4 linked regions of the Homo sapiens genome follow. The protein of the gene in region 3 interacts with the protein of the main gene of each other region in a pairwise test. Each region holds a gene or a part of one and is shown on either strand. Other genes may lie near its edges.

The links.
Region 1: the proteins of CTSD (region 3) and SUMF2 interact in binary tests that used the Homo sapiens proteins (3 or more experiments, as listed by UniProt).
Region 2: the proteins of CTSD (region 3) and MOGAT3 interact in binary tests that used the Homo sapiens proteins (3 or more experiments, as listed by UniProt).
Region 4: the proteins of CTSD (region 3) and GPR141 interact in binary tests that used the Homo sapiens proteins (3 or more experiments, as listed by UniProt).

The regions. Positions count from the first base shown.
Region 1 is NC_000007.14:56,074,286-56,081,170, reverse strand, and holds the end of SUMF2 (inactive C-alpha-formylglycine-generating enzyme 2 isoform b precursor), read right to left. Parts: intron 6,586-6,885; coding exon 6,435-6,585; intron 4,338-6,434; coding exon 4,282-4,337; intron 3,070-4,281; coding exon 2,985-3,069; intron 2,808-2,984; coding exon 2,663-2,807; intron 2,250-2,662; coding exon of another isoform or gene 2,132-2,249; intron 1,819-2,131; coding exon of another isoform or gene 1,740-1,818; exon of another isoform or gene 1,644-1,739; coding exon 1,559-1,643; coding exon of another isoform or gene 1,300-1,558; 3' UTR 501-1,299; downstream 1-500. Other genes in the region: PHKG1 (phosphorylase b kinase gamma catalytic chain, skeletal muscle/heart isoform), read left to right, coding at 1-117. UniProt on the Homo sapiens protein: Lacks formylglycine generating activity and is unable to convert newly synthesized inactive sulfatases to their active form. Inhibits the activation of sulfatases by SUMF1.
Region 2 is NC_000007.14:101,198,027-101,205,928, reverse strand, and holds the start of MOGAT3 (2-acylglycerol O-acyltransferase 3), read left to right. Parts: upstream 1-4,892; 5' UTR 4,893-5,074; coding exon 5,075-5,183; intron 5,184-5,413; coding exon 5,414-5,521; intron 5,522-5,624; coding exon 5,625-5,695; intron 5,696-7,098; coding exon 7,099-7,303; intron 7,304-7,563; coding exon 7,564-7,738; intron 7,739-7,902. UniProt on the Homo sapiens protein: Catalyzes the formation of diacylglycerol from 2-monoacylglycerol and fatty acyl-CoA. Also able to catalyze the terminal step in triacylglycerol synthesis by using diacylglycerol and fatty acyl-CoA as substrates.
Region 3 is NC_000011.10:1,753,928-1,760,951, forward strand, and holds part of CTSD (cathepsin D preproprotein), read right to left. Parts: exon of another isoform or gene 6,421-7,024; intron 5,713-6,420; coding exon 5,589-5,712; intron 5,161-5,588; coding exon 5,042-5,160; intron 3,630-5,041; coding exon 3,397-3,629; intron 1,102-3,396; coding exon 979-1,101; intron 212-978; coding exon 67-211; intron 1-66. UniProt on the Homo sapiens protein: Acid protease active in intracellular protein breakdown. Plays a role in APP processing following cleavage and activation by ADAM30 which leads to APP degradation.
Region 4 is NC_000007.14:37,678,785-37,686,780, reverse strand, and holds the start of GPR141 (probable G-protein coupled receptor 141), read right to left. Parts: upstream 3,016-7,996; 5' UTR 2,878-3,015; intron 1,603-2,877; exon of another isoform or gene 1,531-1,602; coding exon of another isoform or gene 1,483-1,530; intron 1,322-1,482; coding exon of another isoform or gene 1,198-1,321; intron 1-1,197. UniProt on the Homo sapiens protein: Orphan receptor.

The sequences.
Region 1 (6,885 bases), on a different chromosome or scaffold from region 3:
TACGCTTTCCGAATCTATGGCCACTGGGTGAAGAAGGGGCAGCAGCAGAACCGGGCAGCCCTTTTCGAGAACACACCCAAGGCCGTGCTCCTCTCCCTGGCCGAGGAGGACTACTGAGGGGCTGGCCAGTCAGGGAGGGCTAGGGGGCAGGTGGGGAGGGGAAGCCATGGAAATACAAGTCAAAGGGGTGAGATGCGTGCAGGCCTCTGCAGAAGGAGCACTTGGCCCTGGCCAGGAACCCCTGGAACTGAGGCCACGATCCCCTCTCAAAGGCTGTGCACAAGGGAAGTGGGTGTTCCCACCACACAGCAATACCTGCAGGCTGGGGCAGGCCCTGGGTGGGCAGAGATCACACGTGGCCTGAGAACCAGGAACCCCCTGCTCCTCTACTTCCTAGATGAGCCACCATCTCCATTTCTCTTTAGGGGAGGCCCAGAGTTACTGACACTCAGGCTTTCTTCCCTTAGGGTCACAGGGTGAGGATCAAAGACACAAATGTCTGAGATACACAATTGCAGGAGATTTTATTGGCCCCATGACATCCAGTGACAGTGTGGGAGCAGGCTACTCTCCAGGGACATGTTTTTGGAGGCATATGGAGAAGGGGGCCCAGGCGAGGTGGCTCACACCTGTAATCCCAGCACTTTGGGAGGTCGAGGTGGGAGGATCGCTTGAGGCCAGGAGTTCGAGACCACCCTGGGCAACAGAGCGAGATCCCATCACTACAAAAATTCAAAAAATTAGCCAGGCATGGTGGTGCACACTTGTAGTCCCAGCTACTCAGGAGGCTGAGGTGGGAGAATTGCTTGGGCCCAGGAATTCAAGGCTAGAGTGAGCCGTGATCACCAGTGCACTCTAGCCTGGGCAACAGAGAAAGACCCTGTCTCAAAAAAAAAAAAAAAAAAAAAAAGAATAGGAAGCTTCTGATATTTGTCTTTCTGGAGTACTATTTGCTTTGTGATTCCCACAATGCAATGCTTCACCTAGTACATCATCTGGTTCTCCCAGACCCTTTTAGGACTGAACTGTGCTTTAAATAGTTACATGTCTGCCTGTTACACAGTGGAAACTAGTTTCCTTCAGAGGGACACGAAACCACAGATGAGGCCACAAAGAAAGCATTCTCCTTCCACAGCAACTGGCTGAGAAAACAGAACCAGGAAAATTCTGCCTTGAGGAAACAATGTCAGCTTCCTGAATCATCCAGGGAGAAAGGGGGAGAGAATAGATTTTAAAATGCTTAAAAAATGGCCTTTCAGAGTGCTCTGTTCCAATTGTTTGTGTGTTTGCAATCCTGTGTCAATAATACTTGGCCTCTAACAGAAACACCTGGCCCCCAGCCATCGTCAACACACATTGGGCCCCTTCTCCAAAACACAGGAGGCTGAGTCCTCTCCTGCCCTGGTGAGAGGCGCCTGCCACAGAGGGATGGGAGACAGGGAAGGGGAAGTTCTTTCCTGAGGCTGAAGCTCTCGAGCTTGGAATTGCGCTGTTTGCAACATGGCCAGGGAATGACAGTGACCCTAGAAGGCTTTTCTCCTTGTCACCACCCGGCTGCTTACAGCTCCCCTGGCGGCCGGCCTGCGTCTGCAGCACAGCGGAAACCGAGGTTGTCTGAGGCTGAATCTGGAGTGTTGCCCATCCTGCCAGCAGAGAAGGGGAGAGAGGACAGACACGTCCTGAGAAAAAGGCCTAGGGCTTACCCATCTTGCCTGCCTCATCCGCAGGGCCGGCCATGATCAGGGAGCATGAGGGCTGGGGAGAGCATGGTCTGGAAAGAAGCCTGGTGTGAGGACAGGTCCTGAGCCTGTGCCAGTCCTGGGAGAAAGGGGACAAGAAGGGGCTTTGGGACAAAAGGAGTCTTGCAAGAGTAGGGGGAGGGACAGTGGCCCCAAGAGACAGCACTGAAGAGCAGAAAAGACAGTGACTAACTTCTATGTTAGCAGTTGACAACAGCTCAGTAGAGAAAACCTGTCCACAAGCAATGAGAATATCACGGCCGGGTGCAGTGGCTCACACCTGTAATCCTAGCATTCTGGGAGGCCAAGGCGGGCTGATTGCTTGAGTCCAGGAGTATGAGACAAACCTAGGCAGCATGGCAAAAACTCATCTCTACAAAAATTAGCCGCACCTGTAGTCCCAGATACTTGAGGAGCTGAGGTGGAAGAATCGCTAGAGCCTGGCAGTTTGAGGCTGTAGTGAGCTGAGACTGTGCCACTGCACTCCAGCCTGGACAACAGAGCAAGACTCTGTCTCAAAAAAAAAAAAGATTTTTCGTGTGCCCACCAGTTTGAAGAGTCAGTAAGTCCATGACCACCAGTAATGACCTACTGGTGTGGTCATTCTACTTCCCTCCCTTTGCCCACCTAGTGGTAAGGACAAGAGGAGAAACCCCATAATTAAGATGCCACACACAGTCTCCCTGGGTACCAAGAGCTGGCAGGAGAGTCACAAGGTGTCCTGGGTCCCTTTGCTTTTCATAGCAAGTGCTGCTGGCTTTCTTTTTTGTACCCACAACTGGGCACAGGCTCAGGGAGGTGCTGGGACCAGCTCATCACACACAGACGGTTGGTGGTGTGAAGGTAGGGACACTCTGGGACCGGGATTCAGACATCAGCCCCCAGCTACAAGGCCCCGTGTTGCCTGGGACCAAGCCCCTTACCTGGTGGTGACCCGGGCCCGGTGATTGGCAGAGCCATCAGCTGTGTCGATCCAGGATGCCCCCCGGAGGACGCGCATGTCCTGCTCAGCAGCCTGGTACGGTGATGCTGTCCACTCCCACACGTTCCCCAGGAGGTCATAGAGCCCTGCAGCCCCACCGGCGGGTCAGGCCAGGCTGGGACCCGCCGACCACCCCGCCTACCCTCTGAGGTCCTGGGGGCCAAATGGCAGAAGGGAGGTGCTTCCCTCTGCCTCCTCTCTCAGACATGATGGTCCCAACAGCCAGTTCATGGGCACAGCCGCAAGCCCAAGACAGCTCTTACCGTAGTTGTTCTGGGCGGGGAAAGCATTCACTGGGGAGACTCCATGGAAGCCATCCTCAGCTTTGTCTCCCTTGGGGAACTTTCCCTGATGGGAGAAAGGAAGGGTAAAGGATTTACCACCTGTCCCAAAGCAGGTCCTCATGCCTATCCAGAGGAAAACCAAGGTCGTCTTGCTGTTGCATCTGGGGAAGGGGAAGGGCACGGGGCGGTGACCTAAGATTCCTATCTAGAGCTCCCAAACCCATCACCTTACATCCCCAGGGTGACCCCCACTGCTGGATTAGGAAGAGTGTTTCCCCTGTACCCACAGGGCTCCAGGTCAAGCCCAGCCCACACCTGACTTCTCCACTCTCAGCAACATCCTGCCCTCTGCCTGGAACCCCACATGCCACAGTGCCTCAAGAAGACAGGATCCTCTGCATCCTGCCCCCATGTCTCATGCCTGAGCACTGCAGCCTATTCCTGCTGGCCTTCTCAGGACAGTGCTTTTTTATTTGCTTATTTTAGTTTTATTTTTTATTCACTTTTTTTTTTTTGAGGCAGGGTCTCGTTCTGTCGCCAAGGCTAGAGTACAGTGGTAGCTCACTGCAACCTCCGCCTCCTGGGTTCAAGTGATTCTCCTGCCCAAGCCCCAAGCAGCTGGGATTACAGGTGCATGCCACCATGCCCAGCTCATCTTTTATTTTTTGTAGAAGCAGGGTTTCACCATATTGGCCAGGCTGGTCTTGAACTCCTGACCTCAGGTGATCCACCCGCCTCGGCCTCCCAAAGTGCTGGGATTACAGGCGTGAGCCACTGCACCCAGCCCTACAACTCTTTAATAGAAAGTACTTACGCTGGCTGGGCACGGTGGCTCATGCCTGTAATCCCAGCACTTTAGGAGGCCAAGGCGGGTGGATCACCTGAGGTCAGGAGTTTGAGACCAGCCTGGCCAACATGGCAAAACCCCATCTCTACTAAAAATACAAAAAAATTAGCTGGGCATGGTGGCAGGCACCTGTAATCCCAACTACTTGGGAGACTGGGGCAGGAGAATCGCTTGAACCTGGGAGGCGGAGGTTGCAGTGAGCCAAGATCGCACCACTGCACTCCAGCGTGGGCAACAGAGAGAGACTCTGTCTCAAAAAAAAAAAAAAAAAGAAAGCACTTATGACCCATTGTCTTTTGCTTTACCAGCTTATGAGTCATCAGTTGCATTAGAACCCAAGCCTTCTGGATGCCGCGGCCTAACAACACAGTGCCCAGCCTCCAGCAGGTCTCTGTCAATGCTTGGTGAAAGGAGGAACGTAGGTCTTACCTGCCACAGGTTGGTGCGGTTTGGCTGGAACCAGTTCCCCCATGGGTAAACTTGACCTGCGAGGAGAGCAAGGAGGCAGCAGAGGAGGGGGAGGTGAAGAATTAGGGAAGGAAAAAAGAACACAGAAAGAGTGAGGGAATCAAAAGGAAGTTAGAGGGTGATGAGAAAAAAGAGTGAATGACCTGCTTTTATTTGCCATGCCCATCCTCTCCACTCGCTGAACTGCATTAGAGGGCCCTGGCCTCCTCATGTGCTCCAGGGCAATGTAATCCTAAGCATGGTTCTGGGACCTGAGCCAGTTTATAAAGCATCTGTTATCAGTTCATGTTGAGAAAAGTACAGAAATCGAGAAACTTGAAATTGGACTTAGATTGCATAAATGAATGAGCCAGAGGCAACCTCACAGGTCATATTAAAAACTTCGATCACTGGCTGGTCGCGGTGGCTCACACTTGTAATCCCAGCACTTTGGGAGACCGAGGCAGATGGATCACGAGGTCAGGAGTTCGAGACCAGCCTGGCCAACACAGTGAAATCCTGTCTCTACTAAAAATACAAAAATTATGCAGGGCATGGTGGCTCACGCCTGTAATCCCAGCACTTTGGGAGGCCAAGGCAGACGGATCAGGAGGTCAGGAGATCGAGATCATCCTGGCTAACACGGTGAAACCCCGTCTCTACTAAAAATACAAAAAATTAGCCGGGCGAGGTGGCGGGCGCCTGTAGTCCCAGCTACTTGGGAGGCTGAGGCAGGAGAATGGCGTGAACCCGGGAGGCGGAGCTTGCAGTGAGCCGCGATCGCGCCACCATACTCCAGCCTGGGCGACACAGCGACACTCTGTCTCAAAAAAAAAAAAAAAATAGCCGGGCATGGTGGCAGGTGCCTGTAATCCCAGGTACTAGGGAGGCTGAGGCAGGAGAATCCCTTGAACCCGGGAGGCGGAGGTTGCAGGGAGCTGAGATCGTGCCACTGTACTCCAGCCTTGGGCGACAGAGCTAGACTGTCTCAAAACAAAAAACAAAAAACAAAAAACTTTGATCACTGATGTACCTGGTGTTCACTGAAAGATTGTGTAGAGGGGTTTAATGTGCGGAGTTGCTTTTTGCTGTCCTAACTTTTTGTGTAATTAGGATTGCAGAATGACAAATGACCGAGTTAGGAGCAAACAGTGATTCTTTTTTTTTTTTTTTGAGACGGAGTCTTACTCTGTCGCCCAGGCTGGAGTGCAGTGGCGTGATCTCGGCTCACTGCAACCTCCACCTGCCAGGTTCACGCCATTCCCCTGCCTCAGCCTCCCAAGTAGCTGGGACTACAGGCGCCCGCCACCAAGCCCAGCTAATTTTTTTTTGTATTTTTAGTAGAGACGGGGTTTCACTGTGTTAGCCAGGATGGTCTCAACCTCCTGACCTCGTGATCCACCCACCTCGGCCTCCCAAAGTGCTTTGATTACAGGCGTGAGCCACTGCGCCCGGCCGCAAACAGTGACTCTTAACATTAATCTCTGTACCCCAGAGGCAGAAGTGTGTAGTCTTGGTAATTCTTTTTCCTTATGCTATGTTGCTCTAGTTATATTTATTGAAATGTAACATGTCTGTGGAATTTCCAATAAAATATTTTATGTCTGTTCTTTCAATTTTCCAGTTATTAATTTTTATGGTATTTTATATCAGTCTGAGATGGACTAGAAATTAAAAAAAAAAAAAAACACTGGTCCTCCACCACAGATAGCTTAAGAAGCACTGCTCTAGGGAACACAGACCCTTCCTGCCCCATCCCCCCGCTTTTTCTTTTGAGACAGGGTCTTGTTCTGTCACTCAGGCCAGACAGCAGTGGTGCGATCATAGCTCGCCGCAGCTTTGAACTCCTAGGCTCAAAGGATCTTCCCACCTCAGCCTCCTGAGTAGCTGGGACTACAGGCACATGCCACCAGGCCCAGCTCATTTTTGTATTTTTCGGAGAGACAGGGTCTCCCTATATTGCCCAGGCTAGTCTTTTACTCCTGGCCTCAAGCGATCCTCCTGCCCCAGCCTCCCAAAGTGTTGGGATTACAGGCATAAGCCACTGCGCCCAGCCCCTTTCCACCCTTTAAAGCCCCTCATGCTGGGCAGGATGGGGAGAAGAATAAAGGAAAATCGCCTTATCATCTGGATACCCTTCAAGCCCCCTCGGGCGGCAAACTCCCACTCTTCCTCCGTGGGCAGTCGTTTTCCCCGCCAAGCACAGTAGGCACGGGCGTCATTCCAGCTCACGTGTAACACTGGGTGCTCCAGTCTCTCTCGGATGCCAGAGCCAGGACCTGCAGGCTGACAGCCAGGATTAAGTGAGACAGGCTTCCGGGAGCGCATTAAGTCGGAGGCAGGCTAGGTTTAGGGCGCCCGCGTTCAGCTTTTACCACTAGATGGAGCAAGAGAGCTGGAAGAGAGCCGGGTGAGTGACCAGTGGTCGGAGTCAGAAAAAAGAGACTACAGGAGGCTGAAGGGAGAAATGGATGGGTAACAGGAAACAGGATTCGGGCAGGTGAAACAGGCCTGCTGAGCGCTTTCCCTGATATTCCCCTATCCTTCTTTGAAACTCAGTGTTCCTGGATGTACGAGGGGTAGAGA
Region 2 (7,902 bases), on a different chromosome or scaffold from region 3:
AGAGGGGAGAGACCCAGAAAAGCGAAGACAAGAGGAAAAGGGAGAGGCAGAATGTTAGACCCTCGTGGGAACCTGGGAGCTTCCCTGGCTCCCACTTTCCCCTTCCCCTGTATTGCCTGAGCTGGAGACAGTGTGTGAGAGGGGCCGGGCGCGGTGGCTCACGCCTGTAATCCCAACACTTTGGGAGGCCAAGGGGGGCGGATCACGAGGTCAGGAGATCCAGACCATCCTGGCTAACACGGTGAAACCCCGTCTCTACTAAAAATACAAAAAATTATCCAGGCGTGGTGGCGGGCATCTGTAGTCCCAGCTAATCAGGAGGCTGAGGCAGGAGAATGACATGAACCCGGGAGGCAGAGCTTGCAGTGAGCTGAGATTGTGCCCCGGCACTCCAGCCTGGGCCACAGAGTGAGACTCCATCTCAAAAAAAAAAAAAGTGCATGAGAGGGCACAGACCAAAAGAGGGACTTCCCAGGCTGGGCACAGTGGCTCACACCTATAATCCCAGTACTTTCAGAGGCCAAGGCAGGCGGAGGATCACTGGAGGCCAGGAGTTCAAGACCAGCCTGGACAACATAGCGAGACCCCCCCCATCTCTACAAAAAATAAATTAGCTGGGCGCGATGGCTCACGCCTGTAATTCCAGCACTTTGGGAGGCTGAGGTGGATGGATCACCTGAAGTTGGGAGTTTGAGACCACCCTGGCCAACATGGTGAAACCCTGTCTCTACTTAAAAAATACATAATTAAGCTGGGCACGGTGGCCCATGCCTGTAATCCCAGCACTTTGGGAGGCTGAGGCGGACAGATCACGAGGTGAGGAGTTCAAGACCAGCCAGGCCAAAATGGTGAAACCGCATCTCTACTAAAAAATACAAAAATTAGCTGGGCATGGTGGCGGGCGCCTGTAATCCCGGCTACTTGGGAGGCTGAGGCAGGATAATTGCTTGAACCTGGGAGGGGGAGGTTGCAGTGAGCTGAGATCGCGCCATCACACTCCAGCCTGGGCAGCAAGAATGAAACTCCAACTCAAAAAAATAAATAAGCCGGGCTCAGTGGCTCACGCCTGTAATCCTAGCACTTTGGGAGGCCGAGGCAGGCAGGCAGATCACTTGAGGTCAGGAGTTTGAGACCAGCCTGGCCAACATGGTGAAACCCTGTCTCTACTAAAAATACAAAAATTAGCCAGGTGTGGTGGCACAGGCCTGTAATCCCAGCTACTCAGGAGGCTGAGGCAGGAGAATTGCTTGAACCTAGGAGACGGAGGCTGCAGTGAGCCAAGATCGTGCCACGGTACTCCAGCCTGGGTGACAGAGCAAGACTTCGTCTCAAAACAAAAAAACAAAACAAAAAAAGCTTTCCACGCTACCCACAGAGGGCTCCATCCGGCGTTGTTCTGGATTCCTGTTGTAACTTAAAGAGAAACTTTCACAACATCCGGAGCCCTTGATGTCCTGCAAATGAAGGAGGAAGATGTCCTTAATTTCCTTGCAGCAGGAAACCAATTAGGTGGCACCAACCTTGACTTACAGATGGAACAGTACATGTATAAAAGGAAAAGTGATGGCATCTACATCCCAAATCTGAAGAGGACCTGGGAGAAGCTTCTGCTGGCAGCTCGTGGCATTGTTGCCATTGAAAACCCCGCTGATGTCAGTGTCATACCCTCCAGAAATACTGGCCAGAGGGCCGTGCTGAAGTTTGCTGCTGCCACTGGAGCCACTCCAATCGCTGGCCGCTTCACTCCTGGAACCTTCACTAACCAGATCCAGGCAGCCTTCCGGGAGCCACGGCTTCTTGTGTTTACTGACCCCAGGGCTGATCAGCAGCCTCTCACAGAGGCATCTTATGTTAACCTACCTACCTTGCTCTGTGTCTCACAGATTCTCCTCTGCGCCATGTGGACATTGCCATCCCAAGCAACAACAAGGGAGCTCACTCAGTGGGTCTGATGTGGTGGATGCTGGCTCGGGAAGTTCTGCGCATGCGTGGCACCATTTCCTGTGAACACCCGTGGGAGGTCATGCCTGATCTCTACTTCTACAGAGATCATGAAGACATTGAAAAAGAAGAGCAGGCTGCTGCTGAAAAGGCTGTGACAAGGAGGAATTTCAGGGTGAATGGACTGCTCCGGCTCCTGAGTTCACTGCTACTCAACCTGAGGTTGCAGACTGGTCTGAAGGCGTGCAGGTGCCCTCTGTGCTATCTAGCAGTTCCCTACTGAAGACTGGAGCATTCAGCCTGCCACAGAAGACTGGTCTGCAGCTCCCACCACTCAGGCCACTGGATGGGTAGGAGCAACAACTGAATGGTCTTAAACACCTGTACTGTGAGCTCCCCCTGCCCCATCTTCCAGCCCAGGTGCACCTGGCAGCCTGGCTCTTGCATTCCTCGGCTGGGCTTGGATGCTGGCGGTCCTCTACCTGGTCTGGCTCTATTGGGATAGAAACATACCCAGGGCTGGAGCCCGCAGATCTGCCTGGGTTTGCAACTGGGCAGTTTGAGACATTTCTGTGACTACTTCCCCCTCTCAGTGAGGACCTGGGCTGTGGGGTGCTGGGTGCGGTTGGGGCTTCAGAATAGACTCTTGGGACCACCATCTCCCAAAGTGCAATCTCACCGTTGGGGTGGGGTGCGCCCGTCTGCTCCCCAGCTAGTTAAAACTGCAAAGTTGGGCACCTCCTGGAACTACCTCTTTGACTTCCACCCTCACAGGGTCCTGGTCGTGGGAGCCTTCGCCAACTTCTGCACAGAGCCCACGGGCTGCTCCTGCCTCTTCCCCAAACTCCCGCCACACCTGCTCATGCTGCCTTGTTGGTTCCATCTCCTCTTCTTCCAGGACTACATCATGTCAGGTGGTGAGAAGAGGAGGACCTTGCTGCTGTCTCCCGCCCCACCATCCTCTTCCCAGGGGACACTGGGGCCCAGCTCTCCTTTCCCCATGTCCTCTCCACTCTTCTTTCCAAGTCCCAGGCTTTGGCTGGGTGCGGTGGTTCACACCTGTAATCCCAGCACTTGGGAGGCGCAGGCGAGAGGATCGCTTAAGGCCAGGAGTTCAAGACCAGCCTGGGCAACACAGTGAAACCCCATCTCTACACAAGAAAAAACAAAAACAAAAATTTAGCCAGGTGTGGTGGTACACACCTGTGGTCCCAGCTACTGGGAGGCTTGAGGTGGGAGGGTCACTTGAGCCCTGAAGGTCAAGGATGCAGTGAACCAAGATCAGGCCACTGTACTCCAGCCTGGGCAACAGAGCAAGACTCCGTCCCTAAATAAATAAGTAAATAAGACCCAGGCGTTGGGTCCCCCAGCTTCTGCCCTCCCCCCAGGTTTGGTCTCCTTTGTCAAGGCCCCGCTGCCTCAGTGGTGGCCAGGTGGCTGTCCTGGCGTGGGAGGGCCCCTGCAGGCGCTGGAGGCAAAACCCGGACAACTGAGCTTGCCGATTCGGAATCAGAAGAGATTGGTTAAGTCAGCTCTGGAACTCGGGTGAGGACCCGAGCGTGACCCGGTGGGGACGCCCCAGGGCTGCCGGGCCGGGGAGGAGGAGAGTGGCGCCACCCGCGGACCCCGGGGCCAGGAGTCAGCCGCGCCATGCTCTCCTGCGGCCTCCCTAGTGCCTGTCTTCTCCAGGGAGAATGAGCTCTTCCAGCAGTTCCCGAACCCGCAGAGCTCGTGGGTGCAGAGGACGCAGGAGGCTCTGCGTCCGCTGCTAAGCGTGGCCCTGCAGCTGTTCCTGGGCCGCCGGGGCCTCCCGCTGCCCTTCCGCGCGCCCATCCGCACCGTAGGTGAGCCCCGGCCTCCGCCCCGCGATCCTGGCCCAGGGCCCGCTCCCTCCCCGTCCCGGGTTGGGGCCACCCAGACTGGCCTTTGGCCACCGCGCCAGCCCTGAACTCTGTTCCCGCCTATCCCCAAGGAGGAAAAGAGGAGGAGAACCGGGGATCCCAGCCCAGATCGCCTCCCGTCCCGCCCGCAGTGGGGTCGGCGATTCCCGTGCAGCAGAGCCCCCCGCCCAGTCCGGCCCAGGTGGACACGCTGCAAGCGCGCTACGTGGGGCGACTCACGCAGCTCTTCGAGGAGCACCAGGCGCGCTATGGTGTCCCCGCCGACAGACACCTGGTCCTCACGGAGGCGCGCCCCACCGCCTGGCCTCGCCTGTCCGCTGGGTGACTGCAGGTGGGGAAGTGAAATTAAAGACTGGCGGCAGGGCACGGTGGCTCACGCCTGTGATTCCAGCACTTTGGGAGGCCGAGGCGGGTGGATCACTTGAGGTCAGGAGTTCGAGACCAGCCTGGCCATCATGGTGAAACCCCATCTCTATTAAAAATCCAAAAAAAAAAAAAAAAAAAATTAGCCAGACGTGGTGGCGCGCCTGTAATCCTAGCTACTCGGGAGGCTGAGGCAGGAGAATCGTTTGAACCCGGGAGGCGGAGGTTGCAGTGAGCCGAGATCGTGCCACTGCTCTCCAGCCTGGGTGACCGAGACGTGTGAAAAAAAAAGAAAAAAAAGAAAAGAAAAGAAAAAGAAAAAAATTAAAGTGGGAAACAGACCTGCAGCCTGTGTGTGTTTGTGCATGGCGGGGGAGGTCCAGGCAGGGGTGGTGACCTTGACATTCCTGGAGATGCCCCGGACCAGGCCCTGCCCCCACCCCGACTGGAGGTCAAATAGTCTCAGCAGGGCTTCTGGCCCCTTCCAGCACCTGGGACCCAGTGGGTGGGGCTAGCCAGATCACTCTTGTCCACTCCAACATCAATTCCTGAGGCACTCGGGTGTCACCTCTCCCTTGCACACCCCTTACGCCTCCCAGCCCCACCCAGCAGCCAGCCCAGACTGGTGACTGACAGGAAGTTCAAAGATCAGGCTGAGAAAAAACCCAGAGACATCTGGGGCTCTGGATCCAAAGATCTCCCCACTCACACACCTACGGACACACGCTACTCTGGGAGGTGATTTGCGACTTAGCCAGGCCCCCAAAGCTGGGCTCCTGTAGGGAGAAAGTCTGCCCAGGTCCACATCCAAGCCTTCATCGTTTGTCCTCCGGGTTCTGGGATCCTGCTGGAAGAGGGGAGCTTCTGCAATGGGAGTTGCCACAACCCTGCAGCCCCCAACCACTTCCAAAACCTTGCAGAAGCAGCATCTAGAAGCAGTGGGCGCCTACCAATATGTGCTCACTTTCCTCTTCATGGGTGAGAGCTGGGGAGGCGTGGGTGCCTGGGGTCTGCCAGGGGAGTAGGGCTTGGAGGGAGAGTGGCTGGGCTGCTGGCTTGCATGCCTGAGGACAGTGACCAGGTGACTGGTCTGGGAGAGGGCCAGAGGAGAGAGCTGGTTGTTCTGAAGGGGAGGAAGGGAAGGGAGCAGCTGGAGGGAATGATGGAGTTTCAGAAGTGAACTCTTTTCTTTCTCTCCCTTCCCCCAGGCCCTTTCTTCTCCCTTCTTGTCTTTGTCCTCCTCTTCACGTCACTCTGGCCCTTCTCTGTTTTTTACTTGGTGTGGCTCTATGTGGACTGGGACACACCCAACCAAGGTGAGCTCCGGATGGGGGCCCAGGTAGCCAGAGATGGTGGGGACATGGGGGGTGAGGGGAGGTGACTCCGGGGGTTCGTCCACCAGTATCTCATTGTCCGCAGGTGGAAGGCGTTCGGAGTGGATAAGGAACCGGGCAATTTGGAGACAACTAAGGGATTATTATCCTGTCAAGGTGATGGGTCACCCTGCAGAAAAACTGCTTCCTACCTCTCCCCATCTCCCTCCCACACCTAGGAGCCCTTCCTTGTGCTGGGGCCTGAGCTCCCCGCTGCCTAAGCTCAGGCAGTGGGACAGGGAATGGATTTTTTTTTTTTTTTAGACTGAGTCTCCTGTCACCGAGGCTGGAGTGCAGTGGTGCAATCTCAGCTCATTGCAACCTCCGCCTCCTAGGTTCAAGCTATTCTCATGCCTCAGCCTCCCTAGTAGCTGGGATTATAGGTGCCCGCCACCATGCCTGGCTAATTTTTGTAGTTTAGTAGAGACAGGGTTTCAACATGTTGGCCAGGCTGGTCTCAAACTCCTGGCCTCAAGTGATCCAGCCACCTCGGCCTCCCAAAGTGCTGGGATTACAGCCTTGAGCCACCGCGCCCGGCCTGGGAGTGGATGATGTTCAAGAGCGGGGCCTTGGTGGGGCACCATGGCTCATGCCTGTAATCCAAGCACTTTGGGAGGCCGAGGTGGGAGGATTGCTTGAGCCCAGGAGTTGGAGGCTGTAGTGAGCCATGATTGCGCCACTGTACTCCAGCCTGAGCAACAGAGTGAGACCGTCTCTAAAAAAAAAAAAAAAAAAAGGCGGTTGTGGTGGCTCAAGCCTTTAATCCCAGCACTTTGGGAGGCTGAGGTGGGTGGATCACCTAAGGTCAGGAGTTCGAGACCAGCCTGACCAACATGGAGAAACCCCATCTCTACTAAAAATACCAAACAAATTAGCCGGACATGGTGGCACATGCCTGTAATCCCAGCTACTCTGGAGGCTGAGGCAGGAGAATTGCTTGAACCAGGGAGGCGGAGGTTGTGGTGAGCTGAGATGATGCCATTGCACTCCAGCCTAGGCAACAGGAGCAAAACTCTGCCTCAAAAAAAGAAAAGAAAAAAAGAGAGAGTGGGTGAGGTGGCTTACGCCTGTAATCCCAGCACTGTGGGAGGCCAAGGCAGGCAGATCACGAGGTCAGGAGTTCAAGACCAACCTGGCCAATATGGTGAAACTGCGTCTCTACTAAAAATACAAAAATTAGCTGGGCATAGTTTCGCATGCCTGTAATCCCAGCTACTCGGGAGGCTGAGGCAGGAGGATAGCTTGAACCGGGACCAAGAGGCGGAGGTTGCAGTGAGCCGAGATCGTGCCACTGCACTTCAGCCTGGGCTACAGAGCAAGACTCCATCTCAAAAAAAAAAAAAAAAAAAACCTGGGCCCTTAACCCTATCCTAAGAACCTTTAACTCGGAACTCTGCTGGGGTGGCCCTTGACCCTATCCTAAGAACCTTTAACTCGGAACTCTGTTGGGGTGGAGGGCCCCTCTTTTCAGCCGGTGTCTTGCCTTCCATCCTCCCTTCATCCTGCTCAACACCCCGAAGCTGGTGAAAACAGCAGAGCTGCCCCCGGATCGGAACTACGTGCTGGGCGCCCACCCTCATGGGATCATGTGTACAGGCTTCCTCTGTAATTTCTCCACCGAGAGCAATGGCTTCTCCCAGCTCTTCCCGGGGCTCCGGCCCTGGTTAGCCGTGCTGGCTGGCCTCTTCTACCTCCCGGTCTATCGCGACTACATCATGTCCTTTGGTGAGCCGAATGGGAGGAGGAGAACGGGAGGAGACTCCTGACCAGATGTTCCCCAGCCCCTCTGGGACCACCCCCCCCCATAATAAGTCCCCCACCCAGGACAGGGGCCAGCCTGAGCACTGCCCAGACTTGCAGTGAGCATTTGGGTAGGTTCCCCGCCTTGGAGATGGGGGTAGGGGGCTTGGAACTAAAGGCTGGGTGAGGGGCGGGGGTGCCGTGGAGGCAGATGGGAACTACTTTCCACCTCCTCCTGCCCACAGGACTCTGTCCGGTGAGCCGCCAGAGCCTGGACTTCATCCTGTCCCAGCCCCAGCTCGGGCAGGCCGTGGTCATCATGGTGGGGGGTGCGCACGAGGCCCTGTATTCAGTCCCCGGGGAGCACTGCCTTACGCTCCAGAAGCGCAAAGGCTTCGTGCGCCTGGCGCTGAGGCACGGGTGAGTGCGCGTGCAGGCCCTACCTGTCAGTTCTCTGCTGGTTTATGCCCTCTCTCAGTCCCCAGACATCTAGGTCCCTGCATGGGGGATCCGGGTGCCCAGAGACCAGCGCCCTGCCCTGCACCGAGGCCCACGTGGGCTCTCCAGGGCATGACTCGGTACCA
Region 3 (7,024 bases):
GTGGTAGTGGTGGCCTTGGGGCTCCCCCTGCCAGCCCCAGCCCCAGCCCCAGCCCCCGGCGCTCACCTCGCCCTGAATCAGCGGCACGGCCCCGATGGCCTTCTGCAGCTCGCGCACCTCATCCACCGGGCCCACCATGAGGGAAGTGCCTGTGTCCACAATGGCCTCACAGCCCTCCTTGCACAGGGTCAGCCCGCTGGCCACCTCCACCCTGCGGGGAGTCAGGGCGTGAAGCCCCTGCCGGGACTGGAGTGTGCCCTGGGGGCCCAGTGCCCCTCCCTGGGAGCCCCTCCCCTGGCTGGGCTGCACTCTCCTCCCCTCAGGGCTCCTGGAAGCACAGCCGGCTGTAAGCCCTCCAGGGAAGAGGGTGGGAGAGGAGACACAGAGTGGTAGAGGGGGTGGGAGACCCTCAGGTGGTGGTGAGGGGCATGGAGGGATGGAGGGGATGGAGGGGCATAGAGGGATGGAGGGGATGGAGGGGATGAAGGGATGGAGGGGCATGGAGGGATGGAGGGATGGAGGGATAGACAGATGGAGGGGATGGAGGGTCATGGAGAGTCACAGAGGGATGTGGGGATGGAGGGATGGAGGGATGGAGGGGATGGAGGGATGGAGGGATGGAGGGGATGGAGGGATGGAGGAGATGGAGGGTCATGAAGAGTCACAGAGGGATGAGGGGATGGAGGGGATGGAGGGCATGGAGGGATGGACAGAAGGGATGGTGGGTCATGGAGAGTCACAGAGGCATGGAGGAAATGGAGGGATGGAGGGATAGAGGGAATAGAGGGGATGGAGGTGATGGGGAGCATGGAGGGGCAAGGAGGGGCATGGAGGGCTGGTCTGACCCCATCTCTTTCTTGCCCAGCTCCCACTACTCCCCACATGCAACCCCCACCTGCAGAACCGGGGTCCTCCAGGGTCTCCGCACACCGCCCCCGCCCACAGAACCCAGGGGAGCCGACTGCAGCCACTACTCACTGGTCCAGGTGGACCTGCCAGTAGGCCTTGCGGGTGACATTCAGGTAGGACAGAGAACCCTTGTAATACTTGGAGTCTGTGCCACCCAGCATCAGCTCACCCCCAGGCTGCGCATCTGGGTCCCTAGGAGGAAAAGGGAGGAGTCAGCTGCCACGCCACCCCCCAAGCACAAGAGTGCCAGGTCAGGAGTAAGAGGGTGAATGTGGCAATCAGGGAGAGCTTCCTGAAGGAGGGGCCTTTCTGAAACTGCAGGGATGGAAAGGCCCAGAAGGCAGGAGGAGGGACAGACTCCCTTCTTCCCGGGGTAGGGCTGCTCTGCGTGGGCCCAGCCTGGCCCAGAAGAGGTTTTCCTCAACCCTCAGGTTCTCCTGGTCTGCTCAGGAGCCAAGGTTCAGCCAGACATCAGGGTCAAGGCTAGCGGCAGACAAGGAAGTGAGTGCCAGGAGCTCCACTGGGGAGGACCCTGTCTGTCTGTCTGGAAGAAAAAACCAAAGAAGGCTTCCAGGAGGGAGTGATGGCACAATCTGGGAAGTTGGGATGGCTGGTTCTGGCCGCAGGGCCTCTGCACTGGCTGCTCCTGGGAACACCCTCCACCTGCATCCCCGAGCCACGTCCGCTCATCTCCCCCTCATCCAGACCACTGATGGCCAGCCAAGGTGCTCCTGGGCAGGAGCGCACTGCACTTCCTAGGACCTGCAACCCATGTCGCCCGGGTTTGTTTCTAAACATTGCTCAAGTACAGCTTTCAACGCAGCAAATCCTGCCGGTCCTGGTAGAGAAGCTCTCTGTGTCTGGGGCGGTTCTGCCATCCCGCCAGAGCGTCTGCAGCTAAGCTGGCCACCATCCCACTGCCTGTCACTCGAGGCAGTGCCAGGCCTGACCCAGTCCTCCCAACACCGATTGGGGCCTCCGCCCTCCTCCAGCCTCCTCCGCCTTTGCCTCTTGTCAACACCTCTGCAATCCCAAGTGTAGAAACCTGATCAGCGCCTCCCACCCCTCCTCTCCTCACCAAACATGCTTTCAGAAGCCCTCAGACCCTCCCTCCTGCCTGGCTCCACTTCCTGCCCAAGCTGCTGCCTTGAGACTACACCTGGGCACTCACAACCATGTGCACCTCCCCCACCTGGGCACTCACTCTGTGTGCCCCTCCTTCCACCTGGCACTCATGCCTGTGTATGCCTCCCCCGACCTGGGTACTCATACCGTGTGCCCCTCCCCCACATGGGCACTCATGCTGTGTGCCCCTCCCCCACATGGGCATTCATGCCTGTGTCCCCCTCCCTGACCTGGGTACTCAGGCTGTGTGCCCCCTCCCCATGTGGGCACTCATGCCTGCATGCCCTCTTGCCCTCAGGGGACCCCTTTTCACCTGGCTGCCTCCCCTGTGCCCCAAGGCTCCTGGGGAAATGGCCCAGCCGGTTCACCTGTGTCCTGGCCTCTAGTGAGCAGCTTAGCCCTGGGTGTTGCTAAGGAGTATTCACTGCCCAGGCAAGGGGCAGAGCAAAGAGGCCCAGCCAGCCCTACAGCCGGAATTCTGCCGGAAGCGATCCAAGGTTAGGGGTCAGGCCCAGAGACTCCAAGTGCCAAGTGAGCCACGTGAGGTAAACCTGCCCCTGTCAGCCCTGGAGAGTGTGGGGCAGTGACCAGGCGCAGCTCAGGGCAGGAGGCCGCCGGCTGACACGCTGCCCACCCCCAAAACAAAAGCCCCCAACCCCCAGTCACCCCTCTTATGTGGAACCCTCCACTCAGGTCTGCCCCGAGAAGAGGAAACTAACTGAGTCCGACGTCCCCTTCCCAAGGTCACCTGACCATGGGTCACCCAAGCTGGAGCAGCGGCTGCAGGTGGGGGCCCTGGGGGAGAACCCTTTTCCCAGAAGGAAGGGCCCCCTATGTTCCTCCTCGAGGGCAGCCGGCACCTGCTGGGGACGCCCACAGAGCTGCTCGCAGCGTGGTGCCGGGGACCCATACGCACCCAAGGTCACCTCCCCGGGGATCCCCGGTCCCCTGGGCACCATGACCCTCTCCACCATCAGCAACCCCGGGACCAGGACCACATGTGCCCATCACCAGGTCTGGGGACCGACGGGCCGACTGAACCAAGAGGAACTGCCACGACCCCTGACCTGGGTCCATTCTCATAGGAGGGAGGCCCAGCTGCCAAGGTCCCAGGACCCACAGCCTGGCCCGAGCCCCTCCCACTGGGAGACCCCGGCCAAACAGCTTTCTCTGTGCTGCCGCTTACTCCTCTGCAGAAGGGCGGCCAACCCCCGCCTCCCGGATGCCCTGAGGTCAGAGGTCAGGAGCTCTGGCACAGCAGCAGGGAGGGGGCAGCACTGAGAGGGGGTGCCTAGAAGGCTCCCCGTCCAGCCCCGCCCTGCCTCCCAGCAACGCGGAGCGAGAGGGAACCCACACGCCCACCTGCTCAGGTAGAAGGAGAAGATGTTCTGGTCCACCAGCTTCTGCTGCATCAGGTTGTCGAAGACGGGCAGCACGTTGTTGACGGAGATGCGGGGGTAGGCCATGCCCAGGATGCCATCGAACTTGGCTGCGATGAAGGTGATGCCTGGCTGCTTGGTGGCCTCCCCAAAGACCTGCCTCTCCACTTTGACACCGCCCAGGGCAGAGGCTGACGACGCTGACTGGCAGGGCACCTGCAGGCCAGGGCAGAGTCAGTGGGCAGCAGACAGGCTGAGCCCTACACCACTCCCTGAGCATGAGGCTACAAAACCCAGTTCAATGGATGCCCATCCCACACACGATGGGGCCCAGAGGGCCCAGAAGAAAGGGCTGGAAACCCTGAGCTGAACACCGCTGGGGATGGGGACACGGGGTATGGCGGGGCCCTCTTCGTGGAAGTCATCAGGGCTCGGTTTACACGAGATGGGAACCAGGCAGGAGCACAGACGGGCAGGCCCCTTGCTCCGCTCCCTGCTCCGACCTCTTACTCCCACCACCAATGACAGGCAGGTCCTGCTCCTGCCCTCAGCGCTGGGAACAAGACACAGCCTGGGCCAGGAGCCCGAGAGATGGGGAACCTGCCGACCCCATCCCAAGCTCACAGCCATACTGCCCCCTTCCCCTTCTCTGCCTGTCCCCTCCCCCAGCCCTGGATGAGGCTGCAGAGAGAGAACACGGCCAGAGCAGGATGTGGGAAGGGAACGACAGCTTGAGGCTGACACGGGGCGGAGGGGGCAGAAGAGGGCGGAAGAGGGCAGACGGGGCAATTTCCTGTTCAGGCTGAGCAGGGTCCAGACAGGAGGGCTCTGAGGAGCCCCCAGTACAGACTGGACTCCAGCCCAGCAGGGAACTGTTAGGAGCAGCTTCAGCTGGAGGAAGGGGCCCTCTTCCCGGGTCCCTGGGCCTGCAGGGGGGCTCTGCTGCCCTCCTGGCCCGCTCCAGAGCTGGGGGCTGTGTCACCATCCCGTAACTCCTGAACCCCTTGTGGCCTGGTCCACCCCCAGCAGACAGCTCCGAGGTGAGAACTCACTGAGGCCCAGGCAGGGTGACAAGGGCCAGCTCACCCTCTCCTAGGGCAGGGAGTTGCTCTGCACAGGGCCCTGAGGATGGTGGATGCAGGCGGGGCCCCCAACAGCCACTGCTGCTCCCCCTCCCTTGCCCTCCCAGGCTCCTGCCGGTGACTCTCCGCCAGCAGCCCCCACAGCGGGTTCCTGGTACATCCTCCCAACCCCAAGCCTCCCCAAGCCCTCGGCCTGCTGCAGGGACCCTGTGCAGCCCCAGGTCCAGCCCTCAACACCTGCTGGCACCTCAAACCCAATGTGCCAAAAAGAGCCCGATCGATCTGCCCTGTCCTCCCTCCCACTCATTGTGGCCTGACTCCGGGGACCCCTGCCCCTGTACCCCCTGGGTTTGAGGCTGTCCCTCCAGCCTGCACACAACCAGGCCCATTCCCAGACCCCTCCTCACCCTGCTGACTGCCCCGGCCACCTGAGGGCTGGGGTTGGGCTGGGATCACCGAGCCCTCCCTTTCAACCACATACCCACGGTGGGTGAACCCCACACCCTGGCACCCTCGAGTCCTGGGAAAGGCCCCAGAGGGACTCACCGACACAGTGTCCTGGCTCAGGTACCCGGAGAGGCTGCCCGAGCCATAGTGGATGTCAAACGAGGTACCATTCTTCACGTAGGTGCTGGACTTGTCGCTGTTGTACTTGTGGTGGATCCCTGCCCCGGGCGACAAGGGGGCCCGCCGGTCATCCCGCAGCCCACGCCACGGCCTTAGCCCTCCCATCCCCCTACAATCTACCATGGAGCCCGCACCCCCCAAGCTGCCTCCCCAGGGTGGGATTTGGAGGGGATCTGAGGCCCACCATCATGCCAGAGCCCCGGGACTGTGGGCTGTGACCCCGGGCCTCCCTCCCAGCCACAGCCGGCTCCCTCTGTGGCCACCCCAGCCCCAGCCCTGCTGAGAGCAAGACCACAGCTGGTGGTTCACCCAGAAAGTCAGTGGCTGGAGCAGGGTGGAGGGCTGGCCTGGCTCACGGGGCCAAGAGGCAGGAGAATTGCGTTGCCCAAGTGATTCCTGAGGCAGCCCTGCAGCGACATCCCGGAAGGGCAGGACCTGGGCGACGGGGCCAGGGTTCGTGACTCACAGCAAGCGATGTCCAGCAGTTTGCAGTGGATGGAGGGGACCCACAGGTTGGAGGAGCCCGTGTCGAAGACGACTGTGAAGCACTGGGGGGGCGTCCCGATGCCAATCTCCCCGTAGTACTGGGCCTGGCAGGGGACAGGGTCCGTCAGGGATGGGAGAGGGGGCCCCATCTCCCCACTGGGCCTCAGAAGGCCCGGCTGTCCCCAGAGCCAAGGCCCATACTGGAGGGAGGGGCATCACGGGGCCCACAGCTGCCAACAGCCACCCACTCCCACCTGCTCAGCCTGCAGGGAAGATGGGCCAGGTCCCCAGCCCTCGGTCCTAATGCCCACGGGTACTTGGGGTCTCTAGACCCCTGGCTTCTGTCACCTACCCCTGCTCAATACATGGTGAGGCTGAGGACTTCCCCACGGAAAAGACAAGGCCAGAGGTCAAGCCAGGGTGGGGACAGACGTGGCCCTCAGCCTGAGCCCCGGGTGCAGGAAAGCCCGGCCTGGAAGACTCCCCTGGTGGCCCGCAGTCCAAGGTCTGAGAAAGGAAGTGACTTCCTCCCCAGGTTGGGGCCATGTCAAGGTCTGATTCTGGGTGTCTCAGTGCCTGCCCTGCCCTCCAGGGTGAACCCCAGGCTTGGAGGGCTTCCAGGCAGAGGGGTTCAGCTGGTCAAGGGGAGAAGGTAAGCCTTACAATCACTGCCTGCCCAGCAACCCTGCCTTAATGGCCCAGGGCCTCAGTTTCCCCGTGTGTACACAGGGATAGCAGGCGCAGGTGGGGGTGCTGACTCAGGGATCAGGCAAGTACAAGGGGTCCCATGCCGCCGAGCCTCTCAGGAGGCAGAGAGTAAGAGGGTCCTGGAGTTTGGGGTCGCCTGGGCGCCCGCTTCCCCCAGGATTGGAGCCTGGGCCACCGTCAGCCACCAGATTCCTGGCACCAGCCCAGCCCAATGTTTCTCCAACCGCCTGGCTTCACGGAGCAGCAGCAGCTGCTGACTCATGGCCCCACAGAAGTGACCACTGGCAGGGGGACACTCAGCAAATTTCCATGTGTGTGTGTGCATGTGTGCGCATGCGTGCATCTGCTTGCTCGCGCGCTAGGACAATCAGGAACTGGCCAGTCGGGACCAGGCACACGGCGCCTGGTTCCCCCCAGGGCCCCCCTGGCCCAGTCACATGCCTGTGAGTCTTGGGCTTCCTGTCACAGCCAGGACTCGGGCCAAGCAGGACAGAGGGCAAGGCTCCCCCACAGTGGGCCAGAGCCCCGAGGCTGGACAGTAGGCCCTGGCCTCGAACTGACCCCATAGAGCTGGGACCAGGCTGACCAAGCCCCAGCTTGCTAGGTGGCTTCCAGAGTGCTCCACCTTGGATCCTGCTTCCCCCTGAAGGAGTAGTGGGCACAGGAGGGGCTGTTGCGAGAGGAAGAAGATGGGGAGGGGCTGGGGAG
Region 4 (7,996 bases), on a different chromosome or scaffold from region 3:
GCCAATTATTTTGAAATCACAGTTACATCCAATTTTGAAAAGAGAAGCCATCTTTGGACTTAGCAACTACTGCTTTTAGACCATCTGGAGTTCCAAGCCTTCACTATCTATGGTACGTAATCTCCATGATAATACCTTCATCATTTCATTCACTTATTCACTCATATAACCATTCCAAAGATGCTGGGTACTTATTATGGGTCAAACCCTGTTCTAAAATATAAAGGTAGCAAAGGCATAGTTCCTGCCCTTAAGGAAATTATGTTTTTAGGAAACAGACTATGCTTAGATTAAGTTTGATTATGACTGTCACGAATAATAACATTGTCATTCAAAATAAGATGGGACAATAACATAATTTGGAAAATACTTTGGTATAACGTATGAACTAGCTTTGAAAACACTTTGCAAAGCAATGTCTCAGAAATCTTTGATCAATTGAAAATTGTTTTCAATGTTATTACTTTGAAAGACAGCACAGACTTGCACATATTCTAACTTCTTTAAAATATTTTTAGTCTGAGTCTGAGTCAGGAAGACTGCTTGAGCCCAGGGATTTGAGACCAGCCTTGGCAACATAGTGAGACCCCCTCTCTAAAGAAAAAAAAAAAAAAAAAAGGCAGGCAGGGTGGCTCACACCTGCACTCCCAGCTATTCGGAAGGCTGAAGTGAGAGGACCACTTGATTCCAGGAGGTGAAGGCTTCAGTGAGCTGTGATTGTGCCACTGCACTCCTGCCTTGGAGACAGAGCGAGGCCCTGTCCCAAAAATATATTTTTTAACATATTATTTAACAATATATTTAACACATTATTTTAGTCACAACATGCTACGTCTCTTATAGTGCTAGCACAATGGCTTACCCATAGTAGACACCAGTAAACATTTCACAGGCTCATTGATTTTAAATTTGGAAAGCACTTTTAGAAATTAGCTAGACCTGTGGTCCTTAACTACAATTGGATTTTGGACCACTTTGAAAATCAATCCGTGTTTTTCTTATTTAAAAAAAAAAAAAAAAAAAAAAAAGTGCTGCCAGGCACAGTGGCTCATGTTTGTTATCCCAGTACTCTGAAAAGCCAAGGCAGGAGGATCACTTGTGCCCAGGAGTTTGAGACTAACCTGGGCAACATGAGCAAGACCCTGTCTCTATTTAAAAAAAAAAATTAATTAATTAGCCAGGTGTGGTGGCAAGTACCTGTAGTCTCAGCTACTGAGGAGGCTGAGATGAAAGGATCACTTGAGCCCCGGAGGTCGATGCTGCAGTCAGTGAGCCATGATTGAGTCGCTAAACTCCAGCCTGGGCAACAGAGAGAAAGGCCCTGAAGAAAGAAAGAGAGAAAGAGAGAGAGAGATGGAGGGAGGGAGGGAGGGAAGAAGGCAGGAAGGCAGGCAGGCAGGCAGGCAGGCAGGCAGGAAGGAAGGAGGGAGGGAGAGAAACACACACACGCACAAAAGGAAGAAAAGAAAAACACACACTTACATTTTTGCATGCAATTTCAGAGGATTGGTGTATCAATCTAAAGACCATCCAGGAACTCCCTTAGCTGAGCATCTCTTATCCAGTCTACAACTTCCATTTTATAATTGTTGAAAATCATTGCTAGAAGAATAGTTGGAAAATTGTGTCACCTAAGCCAAAGCTGGCTCACTTCTTGTTTTTATACAGCCTGTGAGCTACGAATGGTTTTTATAGTTTTAAATGGTTATGTAAGTACCAATATATTAGCCTCAGTTCTACCTCTTGGCTTGCAAAGCCTAAAATATTTACTATCAAGGCTTTTGTAGAAAAAGTTTGCCAACCCCTGGTCTGGAATCCTTAGACAATATTCCCCCAAATTATGCAGCCAATTACTAGAAAACAGAGGACTAGAATTCACACCACCTGATTCCTCATCCATTGGTCTTCCCATTACTTCTATTGACTGATTAAAATCCTAATTAACTGATTTAAACCCAATAAAACAGAAAACAAAGACATGTAATTCTGGAGTACTTAATAAGTAATTTCTCAGATAAGTAATTGTGCAGTTATGTAGAACGCTGAAGTCCAGAGAATTAAGTGACCTATCAAAAGTCATATAACAAATTTGTAAAAGAAACAAAATTAAATGCCTATATTCAGGTTAGGCATTACTGACTTATTGTTTAAAAACTTTGCATTATATTTCATTCCACATATTTGAAAAATATTACTTCTTGGAAGTAGAAAATACTGGTATAGAAAGTATTTTACTTAAAGTAAAATTATTTGAACAGATGTTGTTCTTTTTATTTATCTTATTTAAGAAGTTATTTTCAGATCCTTCCTGTTAAGTAGTACTTTAAAAGTGGGATGGAAAGAATTATAATTACCATTATTTCACATGTTATTTTGAATATACTTCTTTTAGAAATTTCTAAGTACTTGATTGCTTACAGATTGTTTCCTTCTATTGACTAGGGCTGCCTGAATAGTTTCAAACTCTATCTGAAAATAATGCAGTAATAGAGTTAAAGGATTTTCATAACAAAAGGAAATTAAGACATCACTTAAAAGATAAGCATTTGAATAATTATACACAAATTCAATAGTGCCAACTGCTCTAAAAAATTCTATGATATGTTTAGCTGGTTTTTTGACAGAGAGATTCTGAAATCATTTTTGTTCACATTTACCCATAAATATTAGGTTTTACTTTCAGAGCAGCATATCCTAAGCAGTAAGAATAGAACAATTCTTTCTATAAAGGAGGAGTTGTGGTCAGAGAATAAGCTTGCTTTTTAGAGCAGAACCATTTGAAGATTCTGAATTAGGACTATGCCAACAAATTAAGTGTGCTTTATTTCTATAGCACTTTCATTCATGTCTCCCCAAACCTAAGTCATCTGCACTTACCTTGAAAATCCAGATTTCTCAGTGATGGCTACAGAGATGGGCCACATGTCTGCCTTCCAAATAGGATTCTGTTTCAACAGCAGGGCAGCTGGGTCATTTCCATGCTCTGCATGCATTTGCAAAGGCTCTGGACAGCTCACCAAGCAAAAGGAAGTGAATGTGTTCTAAGTTCCTCAGAATGTCAACAGACCATAAAACCTCAAAACCATTTGAAACACAATAGTCTTGAAAAACCAAGCTCTTAAACATGAGTAGTCCAGGTTGCAAACTACAGAGAGGCCAATTGTCAAGAAATATTTATGAAGGATTGATGACTACGATGAATCAAGTTTTTAAAATGTTCTTCAAACTAAATTTTGTAGAGAATGGGGAACAAAGTGGTATTATCAAAAACAAAAAGGGAAGGTAAACTGTGTATTGTTCTTCTGGTGAAGGAATATGTGTAATATTTCCTTTCAGTAAGGAGAAAATTTCCAGAGTTGCTCTATACCTCACTGGTAACTTAGGGCTCCCACTTTTATAATTGTGTTAATTAGCTGTCACTGATAAATGGCATTGACTGGGATATGGCACTATAATTATGTCATTTAATTAGAATTAAGAGAGAAAATATTTAAAATCAGAGTGTGCTATAGGGGCAGGGGAGGGGAGTAAATCGTCACAGCTTAACTTTTTAGACTGTCAACATTATCTCCAGAAGAAGCTGCCCATACAGTCATAGAGATGCACTGCAAGTATTGAGAAAAAAAAACATCAGTTCCTCAAACTGCTTGAACTTTCCTACCATTTGATGACCACTCTATAAATTAGGATTTTATAAACTTTCTAATTATGTAAATCGGTGGTCCCCAACCTTTTTTGGCACCAGGGAAAGGTTTCATGGAAGACAATTTTTCCACAGACAGGGGTGGGGATGTTTTCTGGATGATTCAAGCACATTACATTTATTGCGCACTTTATTTCAATTGTTATTACATGATAATATATAATGAAATAATTATACAACTCATCATAATGTAGAATCAGTGGAAGCCCTGAGGTTGTTTTTCTGCAACTAGATGGTCCCATTTGGGGGTGATGGAAGACAATGATAGATCATCAGACATTAGATTCTCATAAGGAACACTGCAACCTAGATCCCTAGCATGGACAATTCAACAATAAGGTTCATGCTCCCATGAGAATCTAATGCCGCTGCTGATCTAACAGGAGGTGGAGCTCAGGCAGTAATGCAAGTGATGGGGAGCAGCTGTAAATATAGACGAAACTTTGCTGGCCCACTCGTGCACTGCTCCGCTCCTTCTGTACAGCCCAGTTCCTAACAGGCCACGAACCACTGCTGGTCTGTGGCCCAGGGGTTGAGAACTCCTGATGTAGACAGCATGTTAATATTATATAGAAATTGGTCAATTAAAAAGTACTAATTTATTAAATATCAACATTTTCAACATTCCCCTATTTTTAAAATCCATTGTGACATTTCACTATTTCAAAAAGAAATTTTAAAAGGCATCAAAATGATACTGGCCCTGGGTTCTTTCTATTTTAAGGTCCCTAAGTAGAATGATAACTTTGGTAATTTGGGGTGATTCCTGGTATTCTTTACAGTGCTAAAACACTCATTATTTTAGGCGAAATTTTTGCAGTTCTGTTTTCATCAGTATTCACATTTCTTACTCCAAACATAATGTTCTAAGTGCTTCCAACTTTGTTTCTTAGTTTGAAGAGAAGGCCTCTGCATCAGGAAACTCTTCAATTTCAGCAGATGTGCGTTCTTTCTGCCATATGAGTTAAAATGCTATCTGCTTCAAAATAACTCATGCTAGAGATATTTCAAGCTTTATTAGTTGTAGAGAAGATTGTTGCTGACAAACCCTCCTGCTGAGAGCAGCTTACAAAAATGAACAGAATGCAAAACCTATAAGTTTGAAGGCTTCAGAAAGCTGCCCAGGCAATGACACCTTGAAGAAATAAAATCCCCAGAAGACAGGAAGTACAAATCAGTGAATCTGATTTTCAACTCCTGAGTACTTTTTACTCAAGGCACTGCTGATTTGAAACTGGACACTGAGAGGTGAAGAAACAGGTGAAATACAGTGGCTAAGATGCTCAGAAGTTAAGGAAATCTAGTTTAAGAAGCAAACAGAGACCACCAAGGAGGTGGTGCCCTTATAATTACCTCAAATTTTCAGTTAGGACCCCTGAAGGGCTACACCCTAGGAGACAGCATGTGCTAAAAATATTGTACCATCACAAAGTGGGAGCCCAATTTCAAATCACCTAAATTGCTGAATTAGGTAGACAATCACTGAATAGATAGGAGATTTGCCATCGTCATAACGACCTCCTCACACACATCAAGCAAAAGTAAATACTCTCTGGAGGACGATAACACTAACCAGATCAATGAATTGACTCTCAAACTTTTTAAACACAATGTCCAAATTTCAATAACTATTAAAAGCCATGTCTGAAGATAAGTCTAGAAAAACAGACCATGAAAATAAACAGAAAATAGAAACAAATGCACAAGGGCATTCAGAATTGATTGGTTTTAAAATAGCTGTAATCAATGTTTGAAGAGAGTACACAAAATATAGAAAATTTACACTAGAGAATTTTTTTAATAAAATAGAAATTCTGAAACTGAAAAATAAAACAACTAAAGTTACTTAACTGATGAAGACTAATAGAAGATTAGACACAGAGGATGATGGAATTGAAATATAGGTCAGTAGAAAGTAGCAGATTGGGCTGGGCATGGTGGCTCACACCTGTAATCCCAGCACTTTGGGAGGCCAAGGCAGGTGGATCACCTGAGGTCAGGAGTTCAAGACCAGCCTGGCCAACATGGTGAAACCCTGTCTTTACTAAAAATACAAAAATTAGCTGGACATAGTGGTGGGTGCCTGTAATCCCAGCTACCAGGGAGGCCAAGGCAGGAGAATCGCTTGATCCCAGGAGGTAGAGGTTGCAATGAGCTAAGATCACACCATTGCACTCCAGCCTGGGTGACAAGCGCAAAACTCAGTCTCAAAAAAAAAAGAAAAAGAAAAAAAAGAAATACCAGATTGAATAATGGCAACAAAAAAAAGATAAAAATTATATAAAATCACACAAAAGTCATGAAAGACATAGGGCAAAGTTTTAACATGCCTATAATGTTGCTCTGGAAAGAAACAAGAGGAAGAATTTGGAAGAAACGATATTTTAAAGGGCAATACATTTTTTAAAAAATCATAATAAAAAAAGACATAGACTCAAGAAGCACTATGAATCCCAAAGAGAATAGAAACAACAACAAAAACTCTACCAAGGTCCAATATATGAAATAAAAAAATGAAGAAAGAAATTTTAAAATTATGTTACACGAGAAGCTGAGATGATAGGATTGCTTTCAGCCAGGAGTTTGAGACCAGCCTAAGCAACATAGTGAGACCTCCATCTCTAAAGAAAAAACAAAAACAAAACTTAAAATCTGTTCGGAGGCAAAAACTTTTAAGTGTGCAACAATAAGATTGAAGACAGCCTTTTCAACAACAGCAATGGAACCCAAAGGAAATGGAACAACATCTTCAAAATTGTAAAAGAAAATAACTGCTAATTTAGAGTTCTTTATGCAATAAAAATATCCATCATCTTGATGACACAATAATATTTTCAGACAAACTGAAACTATGATGATTTGTAACCCACCAACATGAACTAAGGGAAATGCTAAAAGGAGTGATTCCAAAAGTGCAAAGGCAATCCCAGGTGAGAGCCAGAACTGCACAAAGAAACCAAGAGCAATAGAAAGAGCAAATGTGTGGGTAAACCTATGTACATATCAAAGATTTACAATAACAATAGTAATCACCTAACAGGATTTGAAATATAGGTAGAGTCAAAATTCCTGACAATAATGGGATAAAGCATGGAGAGATATAAATTGAATTCAAGTGTTCTAAAATCTTTGCATCTTCTTGAAGGTGGTAAAAGTACTAATTAACATTAGACTTTAATCAATCAAGAATGCTCACCATCATCTTTGGAATAGTGACTAAAAAATAACAACAAAATTAGCAAGATAAAACAGGAAAAAATGGAATGAAGAAATATTATCCAAAAAAATGCCAAAAAGTACAGAAAAGACATATAGAATGAATAGATAAGTAGAAAACAAAGAGTAAGAGAGCAAATTTAAAACCCCAAATTTGATGATAATAATATGTAAATGCACTGAGCACTTACCAGATTAGACTTTAAGGCAAGAAACATTATTGGCAACAAAGAGAGGTAATTTCATAATAAAAGTGTCAATCTTTCTAAAACATTACAATTCTGAATTTGTTGCAGTTTTAGTCTCAAATATGTGAAGCAAAACAATGACATGACGAAAGGGAAAATGGACAAATTTATTATCATAGTAGAAGATTTTAACAAACCTCTCTGTGATACAACAAGCAAACAAAAATTCAATGTGAATATAGTACACTTGAACAAGGCAATCAATAAACTTGACCTAATTCATATTCCTTATACTCAGCAAATGCAGAATTCACATCATATGAACAACCTCAATTAACCCAATGGTAGATATAAAGCAAATATAACAAATATAATAAGACTGAAACTATACAGAGTATATTTTCTGATAAAAGGCACAATTAGGCTAGAAATCAGTAACAAAAAGATAATGTTAAAACCTTTATATGTTTGAAAAGTACTCAATATACTTCTAAATAAATCACAAGCTAAAATGTGAGTACAAATGAAAATTAGGAAATACTGTTATTTGAATGATAATGAAAATTCAACTTATAAAAACTTTAATATTACAATTAAGGTCATATTTAAATGCATATAGTAGAGGTGGAAAGGTGAAATGAATGAAACTCGAGGTAAGCAGCAAGAAAGAAGAAAAATCAAGCAGAAGTCAATGAAAGATAAAACAAATATATAAAAGAGAAAATAAATCTACAAGTTCATTCTTTTAAAGACTAATAAATTCAATGAATCTCTAGAAAAATAGAGAAAAAAAGAAAGAGGGCACAAAATCCAAGTATCAAGATTTTTTTAAAGAAGGGGCTTAACTACAAATCCCTCAGGTAATAAAATGCTAACAAAAAGATATCAT